3 linked regions of the Homo sapiens genome follow. The protein of the gene in region 2 purifies or fractionates together with the protein of the main gene of each other region. This does not show direct contact. Each region holds a gene or a part of one and is shown on either strand. Other genes may lie near its edges.

Evidence for each region.
Region 1: the proteins of OXSR1 (region 2) and EGLN1 fractionate together in Homo sapiens (co-fractionation; one large-scale study listed by BioGRID). This does not show direct contact.
Region 3: the proteins of OXSR1 (region 2) and STRIP2 purify together in Homo sapiens (co-immunoprecipitation; one large-scale study listed by IntAct). This does not show direct contact.

What each region holds. Positions count from the first base shown.
Region 1 is NC_000001.11:231,373,751-231,377,405, forward strand, and holds part of EGLN1 (egl nine homolog 1), read right to left. Parts: intron 350-3,655; coding exon 230-349; intron 1-229. UniProt on the Homo sapiens protein: Cellular oxygen sensor that catalyzes, under normoxic conditions, the post-translational formation of 4-hydroxyproline in hypoxia-inducible factor (HIF) alpha proteins.
Region 2 is NC_000003.12:38,227,937-38,231,591, reverse strand, and holds part of OXSR1 (serine/threonine-protein kinase OSR1), read right to left. Parts: intron 1,906-3,655; coding exon 1,857-1,905; intron 1,228-1,856; coding exon 1,162-1,227; intron 1-1,161. UniProt on the Homo sapiens protein: Effector serine/threonine-protein kinase component of the WNK-SPAK/OSR1 kinase cascade, which is involved in various processes, such as ion transport, response to hypertonic stress and blood pressure.
Region 3 is NC_000007.14:129,451,380-129,455,034, reverse strand, and holds part of STRIP2 (striatin-interacting protein 2), read right to left. Parts: intron 3,423-3,655; coding exon 3,288-3,422; intron 2,916-3,287; exon of another isoform or gene 2,819-2,915; intron 1,809-2,818; coding exon 1,688-1,808; intron 894-1,687; coding exon 825-893; intron 615-824; coding exon 508-614; intron 1-507. UniProt on the Homo sapiens protein: Plays a role in the regulation of cell morphology and cytoskeletal organization. Required in the control of cell shape. Calmodulin-binding scaffolding protein which is the center of the striatin-interacting phosphatase and kinase (STRIPAK) complexes.

The sequences.
Region 1 (3,655 bases), on a different chromosome or scaffold from region 2:
TTTTAAGTGCACAACACTACGTTGTTAACTACAGGTATCATGTTGTATAACATAGAGTAGTATTTGTTTCATTTTACAAAAATCCACTCCTAATACCTGAGACTGAAACAAATTTAAGAGGAAAATTTTTAACTGTGTCTGTGACAGTCTTATCAGAAGTATGAAACTTAATGCTTTTGAGAAAAAGACACCTGTAAGAAAAAAATAAATGCTCAATTAAGTTGCATACCTTGGCATCCCAGTCTTTATTAAGATAATATATACATGTCACACATCTTCCATCTCCATTTGGATTATCAACATGACGTACATAACCCGTTCCATTGCCCGGATAACAAGCAACCATGGCCTGTAATAATGATAATAATGATTATTAAAGTCCATGTATAAATAAAAAGAGAGAACAGCTAATAAATCAGATCTCTGATTTTTGGCTACTGATTTACACTTAGATTCTTCTAATAAAAATAATATTTTGTAGATAAGATAAGGCTATTCTACATTAACATTTATAGGGAACACAAGATAGGTTGATGAACAAGGACTGGTGAATTCTGCTTCACAGTGATAACTCCAAAGATCAGAAAAATTTCTTGGTCCTACTTTGACAATCTTTATAAATACAGATAATCAAGATCAAGTACGTTTTTGTCCTGCTCCATGGGAGATTTCAATCTTCCTTGAGCTCACCTCAGAACACCTACTTTACCATCTGATAGGTGAACCAACCCAGTCAACACCCCATCTGACACTGTCTCTGAATGGTACCAATTTTTTTTTTTTTTGAGACAGGGTCTGGCTCTGTTGCTCAGGTTCGAGTGCAGTGATGCAATCATGGCTCACTGCGGCCTCAACCTCCTGGGCTCAGGTGATTCTCCCACCTCAGCCTCCTAAGTAGCTAGGACTATAAGCACGTGTCACCAGGCTGGTTAATTTTTGTATTTTTTGTAGATATGGTGTCTTACTATGTTGTAATAGGGATAATTTAGGAGGTCAACTAAACTCCAAACATTAACTCATTTAGTGTCAGTGATTTTTTTTTAAAAAAAGGACTAAACAAATTAGCTTATGTTTACCCTCTTTCAATCAGAAAGAAAATTATTTGCTCAGATTATAACAAGATATGGTTCAGAAGACTGTTGGATGTTAAGCTTAAAGGTAGAAAAGAGGCCCAAAATAAAAAGCACAAAATAACTTCCATATTCTAGGTGTACATGATAATTAACTGAAATTGGTAATGGTATTTTTTAAAAAATTCTCAGGAATTATGAAGAAAACAAACAAAGACGTTCAAGGTTATGAGCTATTCTTGTTTTTGTTTGTTTTTTTACAGAGTCTTGCTCTGTTGACCAGGCTAGAGTGCAGTGGCACGATCTCAGCTCACTGCCTCCACCTTCCAGGTTCAAGCGATTCTCCTGCCTCGGCCTCCCGAGTAGCTGGGATTACAGGTGCATGCTGCCAGGCCCGGCTAATTTTTGTATTTTTAGTAGATACAGGGTTTCACCATGTTGGCCAAGCTGGTCTTAAACTCCTGACCTCAAGTGATCCTCCTGCCTCAGCCTCCCAAAGTGCTGGAATTACAGGCTTGAGCCACCACGCCACCCGGTTTGTTATGAGCTATTCTTGAAGTCCTTTATTTCTTCATATAATAAAGTCAATGAATTAGTATAAAGTTATCAAACAGTAACCGAATTGTTCTACTATCATATTAAAAGAAAAATGCTAATTTTTAAAACTCACTTCCCATCCCTAAGAAACTAAGAGGCATCTTAAACCTAAATCCTTATTTAAAAATCCTGTTTCCCTAGACACTCTGAATTCACTGCTCTTTATAAGCAGCAGAATTTTTGGAGAACATTATATATGTCTCTGTTTTTCCTGATTCCAGACAGACTTAACAAGTTCCTTCTTTCAGCACTGGAGGTTGGTAACAACCAGGAGTGTGGCATGGGCTTAGTGGGTTTAAGTGCTCAATAAATGATGAGCCCAAATGATTTTCTTGTCACTAGCTACCCAGGAAAGAAGTTTACCTTGAATAGTAACTGTAAGAGGGTACTAATTTAACAATGCAATTACTCCATTTGTGGTTAACTGAAGTAATTATGATGAATTACACAATATATTGTTATTCATGGGAAAGAAGGGGGAAACCTGAACTCTACATCTCAAAAAAGTTAATTTGGGCCTTTCCAACTATCTGGTAACTTCAGCATCTCTTGTGTAAAGAAGGAAGGGGAAAATATTTGTCAGTCACTCACCCCATCACATCCCATATATCCATTTAACAAATACCTCTTGAACATCGACTATGTATATGAAAGGCACTGGGGCTAAAACGATGAACCAAAGAGAAAAGGTCCCTTGCACTCATTTACATAGTCCCTCCTTATAAGAAGTTTTGCTTTCTGTGATTTCAGTTACCTTTGGTCAACTTAGTCCAAAAAATTTAATAGAAAATTCCAGAAATAAACAGTTTATAAATTGCACACCATTCTGAGTAGTGCACTGAAATACCTTGCAGTCCTGCCCCGTTTTGCCTGGGATGAATCATCCCTTTGTCCAGCATATCCACACTGTAGATGCTATCCACCCATTAGTCATTTAGTAGCCTTCTAGGTCATCAGAGCAATCGTCGTGGTACTTGTGTTCAAGGAAACCTTATTTTATTTAATAACAGCTCCAAAGTGCAAGAGTAGCGATGCTGGCATACTGTTATAATTGTCCTATTTTACTGTTGTTGTTAATCTCTTACTTTATAAATTAAGCTTTATTATAGGTATGTATGTACAGGAAAAAATATAGTATATTAGGATTTGGTACTATCCACAGTTTCAGGCATCCACTTGGTCTCGGAAGGTATTGCCCTCAGATAAGAGGGGACTATTGTACTATGAAATCTGGTCTAACAGCATAATTAGCCAATAAACAGATATATAATGTAATGTTAGGTAGTGAAAAGTTGTATTTTCTTAAGATATGAAAAAAATTAGGTATATAGAGAAAGATGACATGATATTCTTGAACAGTGGTTGACATTTGGGTTTAGACTTAAATGAAGGGAGCGGCAAGTTGGGCAAATCTCTGAAGAGAGAGCAATGTGGCAGAGGGAAAATGAGTGCTCAAAGGCTGAACAAGGCAGGAAAGAGCAGCAGGCCAGTGTGGCTGGAACACAGCGAGCACGGGCCAATGTGATCAGAGAGGAACCAGGTAACCTAGAGCTGCAGGGCTTGGTAAGCCACAGGAAGGCCTTTGGATATTGTGCTAAGAAGGGCCAGGAAGCCAACAGAGAATGTATCTGACTAATGTTTTGAGAATATCAGTTTCAAGTCTGTATGAATAAAAACAACCACAACAACCTCAATATCTCTTACCACCTAACATTTATGGGACATTTACTGTTTGCCATGTCCTATCTAAGTAATTTGTGCATAACAAGTTGTCTGACACAACCATGTGAGGTAAACAGTATCACTGTTCTCATCCTCATTCCTCTAAACTGAGGTTTAGAAAGGCTAATTAGTATTCGCAAAGTCACATGACAGGGAATCTGGTTCCAGAACCCATGGAATTAACCACTGTACTAGACTGCAGGAAGCAAAGAGTGAAAAGAGAAGACTAAGTTAGCTATTAAAGTTTCCGGGCAAGAAACCAAAGA
Region 2 (3,655 bases):
ACACTGTAAAATGTCAGATGGTGATAAGTAGGGTAAAGGGATAGAGAGTCATGGGAGGGTACTGTTTTAGTAATCAGAGAATATTATTCTGAGGAAAGGCCAATTGAGTAGACTTGACATAAAGTGAAGGAATGAGCCAAGTGAGTTTTTAACCTAGTAGCTATCCATGAGAATAATTGTCCAGGTCTCATCCACTAGAGTCATGACTTTAATTGGTTTGGGATGACATTGTCCATGTTTCTTTCTTTTTTTTTTTAAGTCCCCAAGTGATTCTGATATGTAACGATGCATTATAGCCACTGAAAAAGATATATCTCTAAAATAGAGACAAGTTAACTGTTTTACCAGTGCTTATTAAGAATATCATTTCCAAGTATTTAATATACATTTCTGGTTCTTCATTGTGTTAAATTCTTGGAATGTATCAAAATTCCCAAGCAGTGAGATCTACGGAAGAGAATAAGCCACTGCTAGACATAATGCTTCTAACTTCTTGGACAGGCCTACCACTATATTATACAAGGTGTAAGACCTTTACCTTCTTCAAGTCTATCATCAGCAGAAGCCCAAACTGCCTCCTTTCCTTCACATTGGATAAGTCTGCTTGAGCAGAGAAGTAAGAGTGAGGAAAAGGGAGGATTTTCTTCTCCCTGCTCTCACAGAGGTTCATAAAAGTATCATGGACAGGAAGATTAATATATTCTGCCCAAACTGAGATATTAAAGCATTCTGTATGCTCACATCATGACCAAACTTCTTAGAAATTACATATGCGTAATAAAGTTCTTTCAGTCTTTCTGTAAAGGCAGTAGAAAATTTGGAGTTCCAAAGAGGGTACTGTGACTTATACCCAAAGCTATAAATGTCATGTAAAATCACAACTCACTCTGGTAGCTGGAAACAGTTATCAAACAGAGTTTAGAATTAATTTACCAATTACTGTCTAGCATCCCTTTTCATCCTAAAAGATAGCAGAGTAATACCAAGGCATATGGTAGACCAAAGATATTTGCTGAATGAATGTATCAAAGAATGCTTTAGAAAGGATCGACAGAAAACCAGTAATTCTCATATACTATTAACAATGTATTACTTAACATGTTTTCAAAATGCAAAAATAAAGTAAATTCTTCAGGAAAACTGAGTTAAATTCTGATTTACCTTTTTTGCTCTTTCAGAAATGGTTGGTGCTCTCTGCAATGTTTTTTCTTGAAGAAATTCTTTATTCTGGAGAGGAAAAGTAAGTATTTTGTTCTTACAAGTTTTTAAGGTACCAAAAAAAACCCACAAAAAAGTTCACCATAATCAAAATGTGATATAGTAACTGTTCTGTAATGAAGTGTGAGAAAAACTTTCATTCTTTCACTCTGAAGCTCCTTTAGTATGTTACTACCACAGTTTCATAAATTGAGGCAGAAAATTAAGATGTAGTACACTGTATGAACCACTGTCTATGAAGAGTTTGCTGTACTGTATGTTCTTTGAGATCATGGTCCTACATTTCCAACTACAGTAACATCCTACTATCTGATATATTTGGGAAATGAGATGTTTACAAATTCAGTAGTAAACCTTAAAACCAGAGTTCGGTATTTTTCACAAATTATATTTATAATGGCAAAATTTAATAATCATTGTTCCTATGATCAGTTTAACCTAATATTTAAAAACGGATTTACTAAATTCTGAAGCAATTATCTTAATTATCAAAGACTGTATACATAGTGCTTTCTGCAATTATTTTATCTACCATCATTTTTCCAAACATAATCATCCAACTTCTAAGCACTGAACATAATCTGAGTAATTGAGGAGCATCCTATGAACACACATAATCAAAAGCTGGAATTTCCTACCTTTGCTTTCTGGAAAAATTTGTGCCTTAATAGTTCTGCTGCTGTTGGTCTAAAACCAGGAAGGGAGGGAAGAAAAGTTTTTATAATTAATTCAAGTGTAATGTCAGATTCCATCATCAAAAATGAGAAAAAATTTTTTTCAACAGCAAAATAAAAACTCAGTATACTCTACTTTCCTTAAACTGCTAAAAAGCAAAAGTAAAATAAACTTGATACAGGACATTGAATAAAATAAAAAACTCAAAACAAATATTCTGATAATTATTGTAGATTCTTTGAAAAAATCATTAGTGAAATGTTTTTTCTGGAAGCATGATTTCTTAATAGAGTCTAATATATTTGCTATTTAATAATATTAATTTAATATTTAATATTATTTCCCAATAAGTAAGCTAGAAAATATCTATCTAACATTTTTAGCAAGGCATAAAAATATATTTAAACACACAAAGAGGAAATGGACCAAATCAAGACCTCCACTTCTTGCCACATGGTAGCCTGCCAGCCTTCAATTTAGGTAACCACAGATCCCTAAAAACAGATTTCACAATCTCCCTTTAAAAATGAAAATTCTAAAAGTATATTCCCCAAATTTAACAAAACTCAGTGTTTAACTCATTTCTTCATGGTCTTATTTCCTTTTAAGTAAAGACACGACTGTCAATTTTACAAGCTTTTAAAAGAGTATCATTCAGAATAAAGAATTTAACATTTAAGAGACTGGACCTGATTTTGCCACACACCTACCTGATCCTGAGCAAATCACAACCTCTCTAAGGTTCAGTATTACTTGGCCAAGCCCCTAAGTTCTTAAACACTGCTGTGCATTGAACTATCTGGGAAGAATGTAAAAATCCCAATGACCAGAGGGCACCATGGCTCATGCTTGTAATCCCAGAACTTTGGGAGGCCAAAGTGGGTGGATCACGATATCAGGAGTTCAAGACCAGCCTGGCCAATATGGTGACACCCAGTCTCTGCTAAAAAAACCACAAAAATTAGCAGGGCATGGTGGCGTGCGCCTGTAGTCCCAGCTACTTGGGAGGCTGAGGCAGGAGAATTGCTTGAACCCATGAGGCGGAGGTTGCAGTGAGCCAAGATTGTGCCACTGTACTCCAGCCTGGGCGACAAAGCAAGACTGTCTCAAAAACAAACAAACGAACAAACAAAACCAATGACCAGGCTGTACCTCAAACCAATTAAAGCAGAATCTTTAATTGGCTTTAGTAATGTTTAAAACTCCCCAGGTAATTCCAATAGGCATTCAAGTTTAAGAACCAGCACCTCAGATGATTATTATAAAGATTAAAAAGCTGAATAAATGTGAAAGTGCTATGCAAACTGAAATCCTACATTATCACTCTTATTTTTTCATATGCTCAACAATTGCTTCTCAATATGCTCAACAATGTGATTGCTCAACATTGCTTCTTATTATTCATTCCTTTCTTCTGACTTCATTTCCTTCTTTCTAAAGTACAACTTATGGGTTCTTTAAGTGACAGAACGTGACTGGAAAACTCAATTTCTGTGTGCAAAATAATTTCATGCTCATTCTTGAATGATAGTCTGACTAGCTGGAGAACTCTGGGTTAAAGTCACAGTCATGAGCCTCTTAATGCTTTGGCCAACAATATACTGTGTATCTGACAGTAGTCAGAGCAACAGGCTACACTAAATAGCCTAGGCATGCAGTAGGCTGTACCATCAAAGTTTGTGTAAGTACACTCCACGATGTTCAAACAATGACAAAACTGCCTAATACACATATTACAGAATGTATCCTCATCATTTTAAGT
Region 3 (3,655 bases), on a different chromosome or scaffold from region 2:
CAGAGCTTAGGGTGACGCTTTGGGGTTGGATGCCAAACTAGAAGTAACAATAATGAAGACATTGCTTTCTGGCTAAAGGACTCAATGTCATTCACTTTTCCACATCAATAAATATATTTTTAAAATCCCATAGTCCTTCATATCCTATCCCTGTCAGATGACAACACCAACTTACATTTGAACAGAACTCAGTTTTCAAGGTGATTCAACTCATTTTTTCATGTGGGACTCGTGATAGAGTGGGAGAGGAATGGCTATCCCCACTTATAACCAAGGAAACCAAGGCATAGAGAAGTTACATGGCTGGTCTTAGCTCATAGATACAGGGCGGCAATCAAGCCCAGCCCTTGTGCCTGCCATGCAGTATCTGTGTCCTAAAAGAAAGGACATTAATTTTAAAAAAGAAAACAAAAGAAAAAACGACTGTCTGCCTCTCCTAGGCAGATGCTCTGCTTCCCCTCTCCCATTAGCACCCCATCCACACCTTCCTCAAGTGCCATTTCTTACTTAATTCAGTGCGGAAGGTCTCCCGGGCTGTTCTCCACCCACAGGGGTCTGTCTCTCGCTCCAGGCGAATATTTTCCACCATTAGGTACATAACACTCAGCAGCACCCTGGGGTTACAGAAGAGTCACAAGAGGTTCCCAAGGCAATTCCCAGCCCATAGTCACAGACCTCAGAGATGGTCTCTGTGGGAAGCCCAACCCAGTGAGATTAGCTACAGGGCAACTTCCTAATGGTCTGAGTCATCTGGGATTTGGGGAAAAGGTAACCCAGGTGCTAATCATCTGCCCTGTTCCAAGCCCATAGTTAGCCCCACTCACCTGAGCTCTGTGCTATCAGCTATGGAGACAGCTGGTTTCCGAAGGGCACTGCTACAGGCCTGGCTGTTGCTGCCAGGGGAGGAGAAAAAGAACAGGAATGCATAAGACTTCTTTTCTCTCTGTGCTCTTACTTATCACTCACACAAATATGAGTGCTTGCCATTCCCTGGCTAGGCAGCCACTAATGAAACTGGTCTAGAGTAAAGGAGCTGACAGAATTCCCCTGCCACCTCAGCAAACTCTCATCTATGGTGAAGACAAGGCAAGGGCAGGATCTGTGGTATCCACTCCTCTTGCATTCCCCACTATGCTTAGAACTGTGCTGGACATAAAACAGATGCTAAGAAACACCTGATGAATAATAAGCAGATTGCACCCTATCTCAAACTCCTGGGTGATGGGCATGAGACAAAACAAGGGGTCACTGTAGTGGTAGCAGCAAATAAGGCCACCTCTAGAACTATAGCCCATGAGGGAAAGAATTGGGCACAATGACAGGAATTGATTTCCTGTCTTTCTTGGGTCATGCATTCAAAATAGTTTCCCTCTTGAATTCCAGAGTTAGGCTGAGCTAAGAAAGTCCTTGAATAAAAAGAGAACCCACTCAGGATAGGCCCCTGAAGCCCAGGATTAAAGCTGTAAGTGAGGCAGAAGCTGCAGATGTATCCAACCTCAGGGAGGGAGAACAGAATATCAGAGAACATGGCTGGATGGAGGGGAACTGTCAATGAGCTTTGGGCTGAGGTGTGAGTAGACCCAGTTCCTCACAGGGGGTCTCTATAGTGAGGGAAGCAGCATAGAACATGAGGCCCCTTTAAGGAATGGGGGTTATGTAGGCCAGCCCTTCCCCTAAGGCTTCTCACTCAATTTCCATGTGGAGTAGCTCCAGGAAGGTGGAGAAGGTCCCCATCTGATACAGCAGGAAGCAGTTGTACCTGGACCAGTGTAGCACATCGACCTCTGAATCACATTCCCCAAAAGTACCTAAAGGACCAGACAGTTGTTACAGGGGTTGAGGGGTGGCAGTATCCCAGTTCTTTCCACCCTGCCCCATGATCTTAAGATTTTCCTATAATACTCTGCCTAATAATTAGGCTGACATAGGTATGACAGGGGCCCCAAGAACTTCCTGGAATGAGTCAGGGGAGAGGAGAGGTAGTCTCCAGGGTTAGGTCCAATGTGCTCATCAATGGCCTATCGTCTTAAGGGTGAGTTCTCCCAGAAGCAGATCCTGAGGTAAGTAAGGATTCCAGTGCAAGTAGCTTATTTGGGAATCATTCCCAGGAATCATCAGTAGAGATAGGGAAGAAAAGGAAGCCCAAAGAGTTCACTCAGGGGATAATTTGGAAACAGTATAAAACACACAACTCACAGTTATTCTATCCAAGAGGGGTGAGACAGTCAGGCTATCCATCCACTAACTCCTGTTAGTCATTGGATGAGGGTGCTAAACTAAAGGAGCACACTGATTCCCTACACTTCCTGGATGCCCTGTATGGGCTGCAGAGAAGGCCCTTGAGCAGAAGCTGAGCATGGTGGCACATGCCTATAATCCTAGCTACTTAGGAGGCTGGAGCAGGAGGATAGCTCGAGCCTATGAGTTCAAGACCAGCCAGGGAAACACAGTGAGACTTTCTTTTAAAAAACTTAGATAAATAAAGTCCTTGGGCAAACATATGAAGGTACTGGCAGTTGGAAGTTGGCCAGAGCACCAGACCCAAGAGATACAGGAGGGCACAGTCCTATTTGCTAGTCTTCTCTTCACCTAATGTCCACCCTTTCCCCTCTTCATTTATTATTTTTTTATTTTACAATTTTTTTTTTAGCTCCCAACTGGTTGGTTCTGTTAACACGCCTTATATTTATGATCGTAGGCTTATTTTCACTCCAGCTAGGCTATCTCATTTCCCTTTCCAACACCTGGCTAACAGGTTTCTTCTGAGCAGCTTTCCCCAATTACTCTATTTAGTTCTGATCATCTCCAAATTACTCACAGCATCCACTCCCGCAGTTATGTTGGCTTGAACTTTCAAAATGCCAATGAGAAACAATGCAAGGGGTCCATGTGTATCTGTGACACTCTCCTATTTCTCCTCAGTTTTGGGGCCAGGCCACAGTTGATGTCTTGTCTCCATGATCAGCTGGTGGTACATATCAGCTCTGGCCACACCTCTTGCTAGTATTCACATATGATTATAGTACAGGGTAGGGAAAAGAAGAACCCTATAAAAAATTCTGACATACCTGGTAAGATAAAGGCAGATCCCGAGGGATCTAGAACAGCACTCAACACTATCTCATCTTCCTCATAAGCACAGGTTACTCCTAGCACATGACAAGATCTGTCCTTGAGAGGCAAGAAACCTTGCTTTCCCAGCACAGCCTGCGTCATCTCAGTCCTGATAATGCCCACTTCCCTCTCAAGCCTCCACCCCTCTAAAGCTAGCAAGGGTGGTCACTCACCTTGGGCCAGGTAGAGAACAGCCCGGGCCACCTTCAGCCGCCGTTCCCTACTGACCACCTCTAGCCGGTCCAAGAGTCCCATTATATAGGCCTTTTGGGCATCTTCTTCCAACTCCAGCCATTCCTTGCCCTGCACTGGGAATAAAAGGCCATATACATCCAGTGTCAGCTATTGCCACCCTTCCTGGAAAGGCTCCTCATAGCATATCCACCTCTGATCTCAGCTCCCCTGCCAAAATTATTTTCTCCAAAAGCTTTCCTTATTTCACTGAGAAAGAATAAGGTATGGGAAAAGGACCCAAAATGTTCTGGCCTGAACCCAGTCTATAGCCTCACCTTCAACATCCCCTCTGTCCTCCACACACAGC